Linked DNA regions of Homo sapiens: region 2 is linked to region 1. The links come from fine-mapping of genetic effects on gene expression. Tissue or cell type: whole blood. Region 1 holds a variant in brackets; the other region holds the start of a gene. All regions are shown on one strand. Distances are between the middles of the regions.

What was found. PIP is the estimated chance that this variant, and not a neighbour inherited with it, causes the effect.
Region 2: it holds the start of C14orf132, and the variant in region 1 is fine-mapped to the expression of C14orf132 in whole blood (TOPMed, PIP above 0.99).

Annotation. Positions count from the first base shown.
Region 1 is chr14:96,123,414-96,131,518 of GRCh38, forward strand. No RefSeq gene overlaps it. Among named protein-coding and RNA genes, the nearest start is that of BDKRB2, 77 kb to the right of the region's middle. RefSeq lists an enhancer at 2,957-3,126. The variant C/T (reference allele first, on the strand shown) is at 3,141.
Region 2 is chr14:96,036,234-96,044,338 of GRCh38, forward strand. C14orf132 (chromosome 14 open reading frame 132) reads left to right here and starts at 3,129. Exons shown (of 2, transcript NM_001252507.3): 1 at 3,129-3,294. The coding sequence starts at 3,268. RefSeq lists silencers at 2,979-3,168, 3,189-3,238.

The DNA of each region.
Region 1 (8,105 bases):
GAATGGCAAAAGACTACCAAAGAGACTTCACCAAAGAAAATATACAAATGGCCAAAAAGTCCATGAAAAACTGTTCAGCATAATTAGTCATCAAGGAAATGCAAATTGAAACCACAATGAGATACCACTTCACACCTAGAAGAGTGGCTAAAATTAAAAAGTTAATACCGAGGGCTGGCAAGGCTATTACTATTCTTGGTGCAAAAATTACTTTTAATGGCAAAAACAAAATTAAGTTTGCACCAACCTAATAGAACACTCATGCCCTAATGGCAAGAGTGTAAAATGGTACAGACGTTTGGAAAACAATTTAGCAGTTCTTACAAAGTTAAATATATACTTACCATATAACCCAGCCTTTATACTTCTAAGTATTTAGTCCCCCACAAAATGAAAACATGCATACACACACACCAAAAAAAAAAATGCTCACACAAAAATGTTTCTACCAGCTTTATTCATAAAACCCCGAAACTGAAAACAACCCCAAGTCCATCAACAGGTGAATAGATAAACAAATTGTAGTATAGCCCTCCACTGGAAGACTCAGTAATAAAAAGGAATGAATTACTGATACACACAACATAGATCAATCTCAAAAACACATTACCCTGAGTGAAAGAAGCCAATCAGGAAAGGGTATGTGGCTGCATTCCTAAGAAGTTCTAAAACAGACTCAATCCATCTGTAGTGATGGAAATCAGATCAATGGTAGCCTGGGATTGTTGATGGGAGTGGAATTGACTGGGAAAGTGTGCAAGGGAAATGTTTGGGGTGCCAGAAATGCTTTTATCTTGATTGAGATGGTGGTTATATGGTAAATTCATTTATCTAAGCTCATCAGTCTGTACACTATAATTTATACACATGTAAATCATACCTCATAACGTTAATTAAAAAACACATTTCACCTCTGAGTTTTTTGTTTCTTTAAGGACTGTATTAGTCCATTCTCATACTGCTATGAAGAAATACCTGAGACTGGGTAATTCATAAAGGAAAAGAGGTTTTGTTTTATTCTGTTTTGTTTTGTTTTTGAGATGGAGTTTCAGGCTGTTATCCAGGCTGCAGTTCAGTGGTGCAATCTCGGCTTGCTGCAGCCTCCGCCTCCCAGGTTCAAGAGATTCTTGTGCCTCAGTCTCCTGAGTAGCTATTACAGGGGTGTGTCACCACGCCTGGCTAATTTTTTGTATTTTTAGTAGAGATGGGGTTTCACCGTGTTGGCCAGGCTGGTCTTGAACTCCTGACCTCAGGTGATCTGCCTGCCTTGGCCTCCCAAAGTGCTGGGATTACAGGCATGAGCCACCATACCTGGCCAAGAAAAAGATTTAATGGACTTACAGTTCCACATGGCTGGGGAGGCATCACAATCATGGCCGAAGGGGAAGGAGAAACAAAGGCACGTCTTACATGGTGGCAGACAAGAGAGCATGTGCAGAGAAACTGCCCTTTATAAAACCATCAGATGTCGTGAGACTTTCTCATTAACACAAGAACAGCATGGGAAAAACATGCCCCTGTGATTTAATTACTTTCCACCTGGTCCCTCCCACAACACATGGGGATTATGAGAGATACAATTCTAGATGAGATTTTTTAGGTGGGGATACAGCCAAACCATAGGAAGGACCAAAACTAAAAGGAAATTTTACATAATGAATGTCTCAGATGTCATTTATTATGAATGGAGGTAACAAGGAGTAGAAACAGTTTAAAAAGACAGATGAGGCTGGAATATGACTTTGAAGGATTTTGTCAGTCCTACTAAGATATTTGAACCTTATGGTAGAGGCAGTAGGATAACAGGCAAATTTTATGGGTTCCTTTTAAACATTCTATCTACGGTGTCATTATATCTTCATAGGGAAATGCATTTATTTTTCAATATACGCTATGGACACTGATGCTTACATCTTCCACACAGGAAGTATGCAATTTATGGATATGCAGCTGGGTTAGCAATCCATCCAAACAAGTTCTGTTCATCGGTATGTATGGATTCAGGTGTTTCATGTGTGATACCTAATTTTGTTTACACAACAGCACTGAAAGACAAGCACATTATATTAGCATTTCCTGCATAATAAGCTACTCCAAAACTAGTGACTTTAAATAAACAACCACTTATATAGCTTACCATTTGGCAGGTAGACAGTTTGTATTGGGCTCAGCTAGGAGATACTTCTAGCCTTACCTGGGTTCACCTTTGCCTTTGTACCCAGTGCTGGGTTGACTGGAGGCTGGCTGATTTAGAATGGCCTTCCTTGGAATGGTTCCTTTCAGTTCCACGTGTCTCTCATCCTCCAGCAAGCCAGGCCAGATTTCTCGCATGGCAACTGGGCAGAGTTCCAAGACAGACATGTGCAATGCGTCTCCTAGAACCTAGACTCAGAACCAGCACCTATCATTCCATTGACCAAAGCAAATTAAAAAGGAATGGGAAATGGACATCACTTCTTGATAGGAGGAACTGCAAAGCCCACTGCCAGTGGTGAGCATTTGGGGAGGAGTGGAAGATTGTGACCATTTTTACAATTGACTACAATTATTATCTCCATTTTATGTAAAGAAAAACCAAGATTCAGAGAAGTTAAGTAACTTTTATAAGGTCACACAGCCAATGAATTACAATGAGCTGCTGGGCTTTGATTCCAGCTCATTTCTACAAGAAAATGTGGATCCTCATTTTAAGGAACTTATGGTATTTTATGCTGCTTAATCCATTCTTCCTTCCCTCTATAATGTTACAGAATCAACAGATCAGGGGATGAAGGAACAGAAAGTTTATGAGCAGTAGATATTTCTGAAATGATTTCAAATGTGACAGATTATTTCCTGAGATATAAACAGAAAAGAAATTCACTTCCTTTTGGTGGCATCGGCGGCTGAAAATGTCCCCAGCAGAGATTCCATTTGCCCCCACATTTCCTTATCCTTCATAAGAAGGGAAACATAAAAACGCCAAGCAGGCTCTTGACCCAGAGCTGGCTGAGGATACAGCGCACACATCCATGGTTGCATCTGCAGCGTTTGGGTGCAACCACAGGCAGCTTCAAAGGGAAAAGGAAGGGGAAAAAACCTTCTCTCCGTAGCTAGGCTACCAGTTCCTGTGTAGATTTCTCAAGATTCAGGCAAGAGGA[C/T]ATGTGGAGAACACATATTTAGAAACATCAGGTGGTTGCCAAAACAAGCCAATTTAGAACTGAGCGTGACAAATGCACATCTGAGGTTGAATGTCACCTGGGGAACCCACTGTTTCTGAGATCTCCACAATGGGGTGGGGTGAAGCACAGTGGAGAATGTGCTCACTGAGCACCCGGTCAGCCTGGGTGGGGTGGGCACAGCCCGGTTGCTACAGGACATGGGGCAAGGCATGGCATCCTTGGAAATACACACATATACATTGACATTGACAAAAGGAGGAAGTGACAAGGAAAGAAATGTGGAAACCATTAGAGCTGAAAATTTTGTCTCTAAATGTGCTTATGTGGAAGAGCTAGACAGAGTTGTTTACTGTTGCCTCTGCAAATTTGAATGGGTTGATTAGATCCTTCTTACCAAAGTAAATGGAGTGCCACGGTGATCTCCAAACTTGCCCAACTCTAGGCGGCACTCAGCTGGAACGTTTGTGCACAAAACACCTGCGCCTGTGTCAGGAGATTCTGATTCTGTAATAGGTCAGGATGGGGCCCAGGAGTCTGTGTTTCCCAAGAGCTCCAGGCAGCTGTGATTCTCAGGCAAGCATGGATATACCAGCGTGCAGCTGTGCAGAGCTTCCCAGCTAAACACACATAGAACATCTCTGGGGGAGGGGAGTGCTCTCTTCTTGGTGGAAGGCAACATACTCAAGGACTGGTCAGTATCTTAGCACAATTCTAGTAGGTGTGATGTTCCAAATATGTAGCTACAATAGGGTACAGTCTCCAGCCCCTGGGGTCCCTGTTCTGCCAGGCGTCTGCCCTTTGCACAGTTACTACACTTTGGGAGAGTCTGGGGCACTCTGGGGCAGCAGGATAAGGCTAGAGGCCTCCACAGACTTAGGGCCTTGGTGATATATCACCTAAAAGGAAGAACTCCAACATTCAGTACAGCTAGATGGGGGCATCCCTCTGAATGGCAGCACTGCCTGAAATACATTCACTGGGCACCATTTAGGAGGTTTTTGAGGTTATAGAAAAAGCCTGATATTTGGAGTCCCAAATCTGTGTGTTCTCACACAGGCACTAGCATGTACTATGTGATGCCGGCTCTGTGGAAGCTTCAGTTTCCCTGTCCCCAAAGGATGGAGATGATGCGTCTTCGTTCATAAGGTCACGGTGAGTGTCTAATAGACAGTGGAGCCCCAAGCACTTTCATCAGGTCTAAACCAGTGTACAAGTGTTGGTTTCTTTCTTCCCATCATGAAATTTAAAGACATCTCAGGTGCCTCCATGTATACATTGTTTGGGATTTTTGTTTTGTTTTTTTCCAATCTGTGAAATGACTTAAGAGTTCACAAACAGATCCATAATCCCTTATCTGAAAGTCCAAAAGCTTCAAATTCCAAAAGACTTCCCATATTTGGTGGGACAATCTGACCTCCCTGAGTTTGTTTCCCAGCTAAACCTAACATGAGGCTTTTCATGGTTTGTGTTTGTCACCTGCTTATGGTTTTCTCCAGAGATACTAGTGTGTTGGGCTTTGGGGTGCTTTCCAAACTCCCCTAGGGGTGTTACATAATGCAAGTTATATGCATACATTATAAGATATGAAAGTCCTGAATTCTGGAATAATCTGGTCCCAGTGGTATCAGAGAAGGGAATGTGGACCTGTCACTCCCCCACTAAAAGTTATGGAATTATTAGCTTTAAAGGGAGTCTTGAGGATCACTGTACGCATGTCAGGAATCTTCTACCGCATCTCTTATAGACATCTTCTAATTGCTGTTTGAAATCTTCCAGAACCAAGGACCTTACTGCCTAAGTCCCAGACACTCATTCCATTGTGGATCACTTCTTCAAAGGACTTCCAGCATCTGCACCACTGCAAAATAAAAACACGGAGAAAAATGCCATTAAAGGTACTAAAATATAAAGCTGTTCTCCTCTCTCTCTCTCTCTCTCTCTCCCTCTCTGTCATGGAATTTTTTTTTTACTTGCTATTTAACTTTGTAAGCAAAGAAAAATTAAAATGTTAAATGATTAGCATAAATTCTGTTCATCTTGACATTGTGCATTTCCAGTTTTAAATGCAAATAGAGACATTTAACTTACATGCGGAATCACTGATATTATGCAATTTGTATTTTGTAGCTTATATATACATATGTATTTGTTCTTACCAGTACAGCTAAGACAGAATACCAAATTAGCTGAACTATTTTAATTCAATTGTGTGTGTGTGTGTGTGTGTGTGTGTGTGTGTGTGTGTAGAGACAGGGTCTTGCTGTGTTGCCTAGGCTGGTCTCAAACTCCTGGCCTCAAGTGTTCCTCCCACCTCGGCCTCCCAAAGTGCTGGAATTAGAGACATGAGCCACCATGCCCAGCCCCTTCATGTCTTGCTATGGGCACATTCTACCCAAACTCTACCTTCATCTTCCTGAGGAGTAAAGCAGGACCGAAAGGAAAGGGACCATCTTTCCTTGTCTTTCTATGCCATCATCGTCACCCTATATGGTTGGTCAATACAGGGAAACAACATGAATGAGAATGGATATGACAAGATGCCTTGATTGTTCCTGTTTCTTAGAACACCACTGCCTACTTTGTGCTTTCAAAGCAAGTTCTGATATGAAAAGAAAATGTGACCCCTTGGGGGTGGCAGAGCCCCCTATTCAGTCGTAGCTGTAACACACTTACCTTGTGCTCACTTTGAGTCTTACCGATCACTGACGCATCGTGGGTTCATAGAGCATCTTGAACACTGTGTCAAGGAGCAGCAAGGGACAGAGACACACACGTTGCACTTCCCTCCTCGGGTCACAGTCATGCTCCAGTGTCCCATCAGACTTCACTTACAAACAGATTCAAAGATAAAAGTGTTAAGAATTTCAAGACAGCCACAGCACAGCCTTAATCCAAGCACTAGGCCTTACTGAGCAAGGGGTCCTGTGGGGCTGCCCAGGCCACTCACCCAGGAAGCTGGGCCTGTGGGGTCTATAGAAGTGGGTTGTTCCTGTCCTTTCTACATTTGGACTACCTAACTTTAGGGCCCCTGAGGGAGCCCGTATCTAAGTCACCTGAGGGTCCTGAGTGGGGGAAGTTCATGTGTGCAGTTGTCAGTGGCTGAAATGGCTTTCTGTGTTGGCCTTAACAGGTGAAAATGTAATGTCTGGAAATATGGCTGCCATTTTACGACCATGAGGAGATAAGCCTAAGGACTAAAGATAACATGTCAAAAAAGGCAGAGCAGACAGGAGTTGGATCCTCATTATTGAACCACAGGACTAAACAACCCTTTAGCTGCCTTGCCTCAAGAGTTCTTACTATCTGAGATGATAAATGCCTTTAAAGTTTAATCTACTTTTGGTTGGCTCTTCTATTAGCGCAGGCAATAGCATCAAATCCCATAACACAGACACAACCCCACATTTGCAGGAGCTGTGCCAGCCTTGATGTTGCATCCCCTATTCTGGGAGGTGTGTGTTCAGCAACCTGACTTAGACCGCCTTCCTGGTGGAGAGGAAGGTTGAGGTAAGTGCCTAACCCAGGTCTCTAACTTATCTACCTCTTTTGTTCCCAGGGTAGTAACCACCTCGCCCTTCCAGTTGCATTTCAGGCACTTCAACCAACCTAAGATGAGCACGATCTATGTGCCATTTGCCAAGACCGGGAAGGCAAAGAAAACATGGGCCCTGACCTCAAGTTGCTCACAGCCACGCTGGAAAGAAATGTTGACCAAGATTGTTATTAGTGTCTAAGATTCAGTTCTCTGGAAAGGAACTGTAATATGGGGAACCAGATTCAGAATGGTTACTGGGTATTGCTCTCGAAGGATTCACCAGTAGGAAGAGAGGAAGATAGAATTGGGAAGAGAGAAGGGACCCACACTGTGGTACAACTGAGACCTCAGACAATCCCATGTGAAACTCTGGAGCTGGGGAGGCCCTTCAGAGTTGCCCCAAATTACGGTAAATGGGCTGGATCTTCATATCCCTAATCAGCCAGTCATCAGCCATGGGCTGCCCCTGGGAGACAGTATAACAGCGGGTGAGACACAGGATGGTTCCCAGTGAAGGACTCAGGGCAGGGCTGGGGGCACCAGGGGGAGGTCGGGCCACAGTCCCTGTGCGCTTACAATGGACAAAGGAAGGCAGCTCTGACATGAATGATGATCGAGACTTTTATTTGCATTAATGAGTGAGATAAAAGTGATATTCCCAGCAGGGGGATGGGCGTATTGCCTGAAGAGGGAACCTTGATTAGGTTTCATAATATTCATATCAGTTAGGTTGACCATATAATTTATCCAAACTAGGACACTTTCAAGAGAGAAAGGGAGTATTATTAATTACATCAGTACAACGGTTTCTGTGCACAGTTCTCATTTTACAGATGAGGAAACTCAGGCACAGAAAGGTTGAGAAACAACATCATTTGCTAACAAGTAGTAGTGAAGAGGCAGGGCCAGGTTTCACACTCTGGCAGTCTCATTCCAGTGACTAATTCTCAAGACACTGTAGAGGTAGAGTTGGCAGACTTGGCGATGGATTGGCTGAGGGGTGTAAACTGGGAGGGCCAGAAGGGATCCTGGCATTCAGGCTTGAGCAACTGGGAAGATAGTGGGACTCTTGACCTGAGAGGGTGTCAAAGTAGGGGGAGGGGAGGGAGGAAAAGGGGATCTCAGACCTTCAGTGAGTGGCAGTGCAATCACTCTGCTGGCTCCTTTTATTTTTTGAGATAGGGTCTTGCTCTGTCACCCAGGCTGCAGTATAGTGGCACAATCATAGCTCACTGCAGCCTCAAACTCCTGGGCTCAAGGATCCTCCCGCCTCAGCCTCCAAAGTAGCTGGACTACAGGCACATGCCGCCAAGCCCAGCGCATACTCCATGCCCGGCTAAATTTTTTATTTTTTGTAGAGACTGGTCTCAGTATGTTGCTCAGGCTGCCCCACTGGCTTCAGTGTAATA
Region 2 (8,105 bases), 87 kb before region 1:
ATAGAAATACTAAAGAAAAGTTAAGCATATAAGGAGATATGGCATGTTCTTGAAGAAAATATTTGTTATCTGTAAGATGTCAATTATCCCCAAAAAAGTTAATAGAATTTTCTTCAAGTCCAGGTTATTTGGGGGAGCTGACAAGGTCACCCTAAAATGTATTCAGAGAGCAAAGAGTGAAAGGTAGTAAGGAAACAAAGAACGCATTGAGGAAACTTGCTCTCCCATACATGAATTAGCATGAAATTAGAGTAACTAAATCAGAATAGCATTAGTATTAGACAGATGAACAACCAATGGAACAGAACAACCTAGAAACAGACTGATGGCTAAATGGACACCTGACAAATTTGGTGTTGCAGATCAATAGGAAAGAGCTGATCTAGTCAATATGGGGTTGGAATAATTGAACATTAATATGAGAAAAATAAAATTGCTTCCTTACTCCCGCCTCACACACAATATATCAGTTATACGAGGCTGAAATATGAGAAAAGTATTTAAATTTTTACTAAAATACTACAGGACAATATCTTTATCTTTATGGTCTCAAGTTGGCAAAGAATTTATTAAACAAGGGCTAACTATAAAAGAAAATATTAATAAATTTTGACCAAATTAAAATTATTTACTTCTGTTCATGAAAAGGTATAATAGAGTGACAAGAAATGTAAAATGAAAGATGATATTTAAAAACCTATAACTAGCAAGATTAATATCTAAAACATATACTTTTCCTGAGTCAATAAAAAAATAAGCAAAATTTTAAAACAAGCACAAAAGACCTGGTGAAAGGCATTTCTCATCAAAGGAAATGAAACTGATCAATAGATGTATAAAAGATGCTTAATGTCATTAGTAATCAGAGAAATGAGGATCAAATCCAAATGAAACACTACTTCATCATATCATATTTGCAAAACTTAAAAAAAAATCCTAACAATACAAAGTGTTGGTCAATTGTGGAGCAATAAAAACCCATGCCTACTATAGGTAGGATAATAAAATGGATGAAGCCTCCTTGGAAATCAGAAACTGGAAAGCAATGGGCATCAATTAGTAAAAGCACAGATGAGCTGACCACAATACCCAACTGTTCCATTCCTAGCGTATTCCCTGAGGACCCCTTGCACCTGTGCATCCAAAGACAAGATCGAGAGTATTCACAGCAGCATTTTTTTTTGGCGTTATCAGAAAACCTGGAGATGACCAAAGTATCCATCAAAGGGCTAGTGCATCAATAAAAACTGTGATAAGGACATACAAATGGAATATTGTGTAGCACTGAAAAACAATATACGTCAACTACACAAATAATGCTGAGAAAACAACAAAGAAGACATGGAAGAGCAAATTTAGAGCAATTTAATTTTTCTACAAAGGGTTAAAGCAGGTAATCTATAAAGGTAAAACTATAAAGAAAAGCAAGAGAATTGACAAGAGTGAATACTAAATAGGATGGAGGTGACCCTGGAAAGGGGGCAGGTAGGAGATGCCTTTGGAGAGATACACAGTAGGACTTCACGACTGTTTTTTATTGTTCCACTTTTTAACCTATGCAAGGCTATATTATTTTTCAAATTGCACACACACAACCTATACGCCCTTTTATTGTGAAGTATGCCGTGTACATAATATTTCTTACAGCAGACGGGGAGCCCTGGGCAGTTCTGGGCAGGCTGCTTTGCTATTGGCCACAGGAAGGGTGGGAGGAGGTGGGCGGCTCTTGGCATGGACTGTTTGGGCAGGCCCCGTGTGGACTAGGCTGGGAGGTGGCAGGAATGATGGGTGTGGTGAGTGCAGTACTGGCTAAAAACAGGGAGGGAAGGGAGGGCCAGGGAACTGGAGGGTTTAGAGACCAGAGGAGGAAGGGAGGAGGCAAGCATGACAGGAAAAGTGAAAAGAGAAAAGAAAGAAAAAAGTGGGGGGAAGGGGAGAGAAGGAGAGAAGGAAGAGGAGGAAGAAAAGGAGGGAGAAAGGAAGGGAAGGAAAAGAAAAGAAAGGAAAGTTACAGGAAAGATAACACTGAAAGCCTTCTGTAGGTCAGTGAGGTTCTGGTCCCATTCCCATAGCCACAGTCCCTACTGGGCCCCCAGCTGCCGGGGGACCTTGAACAAACCCCTCCATCTCCCTGTGCCACAGCTTCCTTGCCTGTGACAAAGTCTGGGAGTCCCAGGCTGCCCCTCACAGAGGCTCGTGATGACCATGAGTGTAAAGTACCTGGAAGAGACATCACCCAAAGGGACCAGTCGTACTCACTGAGACTCCTTAGAGTACAGCTGGTTCCCTCCCAGTGAGCCCCCGGAGGGCAAAGCCTCCACGTGTCACCAAGTCTGTGGTGTCCACCACACACACACACACACACACACACACATACAGAGCAATGGGCCCCTGTGGGCGTCTCTTCTGTTCCCCTTACTTGAACTGTGGCACCTGCATGATTTTCGATACTGGTTTGAGCTGAGAGCCATGGAGTACCCGCTGTGCAACCTGAGCACCGTGCGGTCCTCGAAGACACCACTCACAGCCTCGTCTCTATTGGATGATTAGCCATGTTAGGGCTCTCATTTATTGAGGACACCGCGTGCTATATTCCCTATCTCATTTAATTATTCGGTTCTGTATTCTCTTTTCACAGATGAGGAAATCTAGGCTCAAAGACACTATCTTGCTCAAGCTGCACAACAAAGCAGGGCTAGGATTAAACCTCGTTCTGCCCAGATGCCGAGCCGGGAGTACACCGGACTCTGGGAGGAGCGTTGGCGTGGAAAGCCAGGTCACTCCGATCTTGGTCCTCAGGCTCGGGATAACGTGTCAGCCCCAAGAGAGCGCTGCCCACAGCCCCGGGTGGGTTGGGTTCAACTGCACGGGGCGGGGCGCCAACAGCTCAGGACTTGGGTTGCAGGCTGGTTCTTGCACCAACCAGCGGGGCGGCCTCGGGCCTCAGTTTCCCCATCCCGCCCACGAAGGGAGGCGATTGCGAGCGCTTGGGGTTTCTGACGGACCCCGCCCCGGGGGTGGGGCGGGGAGTGGTCACGTGGAGGGGCGCCCCGTCCGCCGAGCCCCGCCCCACCCCGCCCCGCCCGCCCCCGCGCTCGGGGCCCTCCGCCTAGTAGAGATCTGGAGCCAGAAGCCCAGAGACAGCCGAGTGCGCCGTGCGGTCTCCGGACGCTCGCTGCTCAGCCCGATCCCCGCCAACTGTGCAGGCGGCTGACCCGCAGCGGCAGCGGCAGCAGCGAGGACTCGAGCGCTGGCTGCAGCGACACCATGGATCTCTCCTTTATGGCCGCGCAGGTAACGGGGCGTCCCCCCCACGCGCCCCGGGCCGCCAAGTTTGGGGAGGTTCGGGGCCACGGTCTCGCCCTCCACGCTGGGGCTGGGCAGTGGCGCCCGCCCGCGATCCGCGTCCCGGTCCTTTGTCCCGAGCCGGACACCCCCACTTGGTGCACGCGTCGGGGGCGGCGATCGCGGCTCTCCCGGGGTGGGGCGGGCTGCGCGCCCCGCACCCCCGCGGCTCGAGCTGTTCCCGCCCGGGCCCCTCTCGTTGGCAGGAAGGCTGCGAGGAGCCTGGGCAGCCCGAGTCGCCCCCTTCTGCCCATCCCCCACTGCTGTCCCCCTTCTGGGGTCCCGGAGCCCTCCAAGGCCGGGCCAGCTCAGACCCGCGCGAACGTGGATGGGCACACAGTCTCGCCCTTCCCCACTCTGTTTTCCCGAGGCGCCAGTAATCTGTCTCTTGCCGGTGACCTCGGGCGCCCCCTTTGCCGCCGCCTGAGGAAGGCTCTGAGACCCGCTTTGTGACCGTGACCCGCCAAGCGTCGACGCGCCGCGGTCGTTTGTCCTGTTTTGCTTTGTGTAGAGTCTGATGGAGCCACCAGTGCCCAGCGCGGCCAGAACCCCCCCACCCCCCTCCCCGACACAAACAGGCTCCCAGTGGCCGGAAAAACAAATCTCTCACAGCTTGAATTTTCCTCCGGCAGAATGCCCTGGAGTTCTGAGCTTGGGTGATGATTCTATTTCTGTGCCTTAACTCTCTTGAGCCAGAACAAAGACAAATCCCGGATTTCTCCATCAGTCTGTGACCCTAGAGAAGACCCAGAGCTGGCTCCAGGGAAGGGCTGCGTTTGGCCTGGGAGAGTAAGTCCCAATCTACCAAAGCCACATCTTGCACCTTCTCTGGTTGTGTTGGTTGGTTATGGTGGGAGCAGAGAGGTCGGGAGGCCACCCAGGCTCCCTTCTGTCTCCAGGGTGTGTGGCAGGGACCCCATCTGCTGCTGTTTTCTTTTACAGGGAACGAAGTTTGAGGGGACACTTGCTTTTTCCCCAAGCTTCACCTGTAGTGGAAGCCTGTTTAAAAAGTGACAGCAAAATCCAGACTGTGTGTGGACAGCGAGTCTGCAAATGGAGGCTTAAAAGATGCGGAAGCCCCAAGTTAGTTCTGGGGGTCTAGATCCTGGCTCTCCGGCAGCCCCTTAAGTTTTCCATGATGCTAATTGCCCTTCTGAGTATCGCTGGCCCTTTTTTTTTTGCCTGATTTTACATCTCCTGTGCCTAAATCCATACTTATAAAAATTGTCATGTAAACATCATTTTAGATAATGATGGTTTTAGCTACATGAAAACTAAGGAGGCTTTCCAGGATTTATTTCTAGACTGGAGAAGAACTGTGTCTGCCTTCCCCTCTGGATCCCACTGAACCTCCGGAATTTCCATGGTTAACAAGATAAACTGATCCCTGCTAACCCTGGAGCTGGCTGGAGCATCAGTTGCTGCCATGGCAACTTGACGAAATAAATACAGGGCTTTTTAACGTCTTCAGGCAGAATCTGCCCAGAGACCAGGTTCCTATTTTTCCTTTTTTGTTTACAATTCACATTCCACTCGGTCAATGTATTCTCCTTGACACATTTTTGACACTGGTTACATGCGCAGTACTGTGCTAGCTGCAAGGAACAGAAACATGAAGTACCACACATATGAGAACAGACGCTAAGGTTTGTTGAGCACCTACTATGTGCCAGACGCTGGGTGCTTGGCATATTTTATCACAGCAAATCCTTACAAGTCCATGACGGAGGCCCCATTTTACAGGTCAGGACACTAAACGAGATTAAATAATTTGCCCAAGAGCATGCCATTTGCAAGGAGGAGAACTGGATTTCACATCTGGGCCTGAGTATCTGCAAAGGGTTTTCCACCTTATTGCTTCATCCTGAGAAAGATACGATGTAAGGTACAGGACAGATCTATTTCAGAATGATTTCTCTCTTCTCTTCCCTCTGGGAAGTGGGCTTACTATTGTGCCTTTCTAGTAGATTGCTTTCTGCTGTTGATTCATCCCATTATCCCCATAAGGATGGGAACTGTTACTTCCCTACCTGCAATACTTCGCAGTGCTTGGCTGGAGCAAGTGCTCAGACCCTGCTCCTGGTGTGTCCTGTGGCCACCAGGTGTGTGTGACAGTCACTGTCTCTCTGTGCAGTCTTTCCCTCAGCAGGGGGCAGTTTGCAGCGAAATGTTGGTGCATCCATCCACTTGCTCAGCAAATGTCTAGTACCTGCCTTGTGACAAGCTCCGTATCAGGCACTGGGACAGGGATCCTGTGGGACAAACTTGAATAGGACGTAGATTTTCTTTCTGCATGTTTATAAAAGCTTCAAGAAATGATGGGCCCGGCTAAGACACAGAGGGGAATGGCTAAAGGGCTGGGCTGGGTTGAAGAAGGTGCCCAGCACGTAGTAGGTCCTCAAGTATTTATTAGAGGATTGGATGAGGACAAGATGTATGTTCATGAAAAGACATTAACAGGAGAAGATGGTGAATTCAAAGTGTCAAATGCCAATGCCACTGAACAGCTGTCATCATCAGGACTTTGAGAATGGGGGCTGAAGATGGATTAGAACTGTAGGCATATATCTCCTGGTGGGCCTGGGAGTTAAGACTGTTCTAGGTGGAGAGATATCGAGATAGCGAAGTCCAGAAAATATTCACAGAGTTCTTCAGAAAGCTAGAGGATGGGGTGCAGGAGGGCTGGGAGACAGAGGCCAGGGCCAGATTATAGAAGGTGCTGATTGCTGGGGTGAGAAGTTTGCATCTAATCAGTAAGGCAGTGGGAGCCATTGCAAGTTATTGAGCAGGAGAATGGCATATAGTTGAAGCAGTCCCTTGGGAAAACCTCAGCCCCTGTAGAGGATAGAAGCTGGAGGGATTCCTGGGGCTGGGCATGCATGCTTGTGTGATTAACTAAGTCAGTGAAACCAGATCCACGTGACTCCAAGCCCACGTTTCTTCTTCCCCATGTTGTTAAATGTGATTCCTGTTTTTGGCTTAAGAAGACCCAGAACACATAAGCCATTTTAGAAAGATTTTCCACTCAAAAGCTAAGCATTAAATAGATATCCTCTTTGGGTGTACAGAGTAGACACCAGTTATCTGGCAAATCCTCTTAGACAGAGGTGCCCTCCCTGGTGCAGTACACGTGGCTGTATGACAGTGTAAGAGAGGCTGCAGGCACTGAGAGTGTGCTCGTGGACCCCATCTTACTTCTGAGCCCTGGAGGCTCCCAGTTGCCCTCTCCCCTACCCTGGAAACACCCCAGCCCCACTCCACACAGTGCCTGAGTCTCTGGTGACTCTGGAGGATGTGAACAGTGAAAAAGGCCATTCATTTCTCTTAGGCCAGGAGTGGCCAAGAGGACAGGGCCACCTGGATGTCCAGTGGGCTGGGGACAAGGCGAGAATCACAGTCTTTTAGGACTGAGTCCAAAATCCCTGTTTCATTGGCAGGATCACGCATGTTCAAAGACAGCCGCCATGCATTCCCTGTCTCCCTCCTGGACATGCTTGCTGCCCACCACTTCAAGAGCTGGAATCTGATTCTTCTCCCCTTAAATCTGGGACTGTCCTTGGTGAAGAGAAAGTCTAGTGGCTTTCTTGGTGAAGAGAATGCAGTATTGGTGACATTCTGTGGCCAAGTCCTAAAAAGCCTTAGCTTCCACTTGGGCCCGTTGGGATGCTCACTTGCTCCAGGGGAAGCCCACATCATCCAAGAAGTGCAGTGACACAGAGGCACATGCTGGGGGAAGGGAGCGAACATTTCAGGAACGTTCTGCATGCTAAGCCAGCACTCATTATGGGGGAATGGGATGGACAACAGAGACAGGAGGGCTCCTTCACTTGTTCTTATGGCGTAACTCTCCTGTTAAAGCATGCCTCGGGTCTAAAAGCTCAACCTTCTTTTTGTCTTGCACTGTCCCGTCCCTGCAGTGAGTGGTTTCAAGCCAGTGGTTCTCAAATGTTGTTGCCATTAGAATCACCTGGGAGCTTTCAAGAGTCCTGCTGCCCAGGTCTCACCTCCGATACTCCCATCAGATTCTAGGGGTGGGAGCCAGGCACCAGCACTTTCCTTGCATTCCCCAGCTGATCCCAGTGGTCAATGAAGGGTGAGACTCAGAGTGTAAGCCCACCCTATAGGATACATCCACCCTCCCACTTCTCCCTCCCTGGATGAAACAGATCCCTGGCTCTCTGGTCACCCTTAGGCCATTAAAAACTCATGTGGTCACTGGAAGTCACCTAACACAGTATCGATTCAGCAACTTAAAATGTTTGGGCCCAGAGTGACATAGCCTTGGAACTTGCTCCAAAACTGAGCTTCTCCCTCTCTCCAGGCCACACCTGCCAGAGGTGGGAAACCTGTAGTTGAGGTGGGTGCCTTTATTATTCCCATCATCAAGAAAGGGAGATTTGGAATGAATAGCCAGGGAGGCTCAGCCGGCAAACAGAGGGCCAGGAGCGGAGCCACATCCACTGATGCAGGACCATCCTTCCATGTCACCGCAGTACCCCTGCAAGAGCTGGGGGGGCCAGGGACCCTCTGTGGATCAGCTTCATCCTCTGATCCATCCAGGCGGTTGTGTTTGTGTACATTTTTATTTTATTATCATTATTCTTTTTTATTTTGAGACACGGTCTTGTTCTGTTGCCCAGGATGGAGTGCAGTGGTGCGATCATGGTTCACTGCAGCCTTAATCTCCCAGGCTGAAGCAATCTGCCCACCTCAACTGCCTGAGTCTCTGGGGCTACAGGCACATGCCACCATGGCTGGCT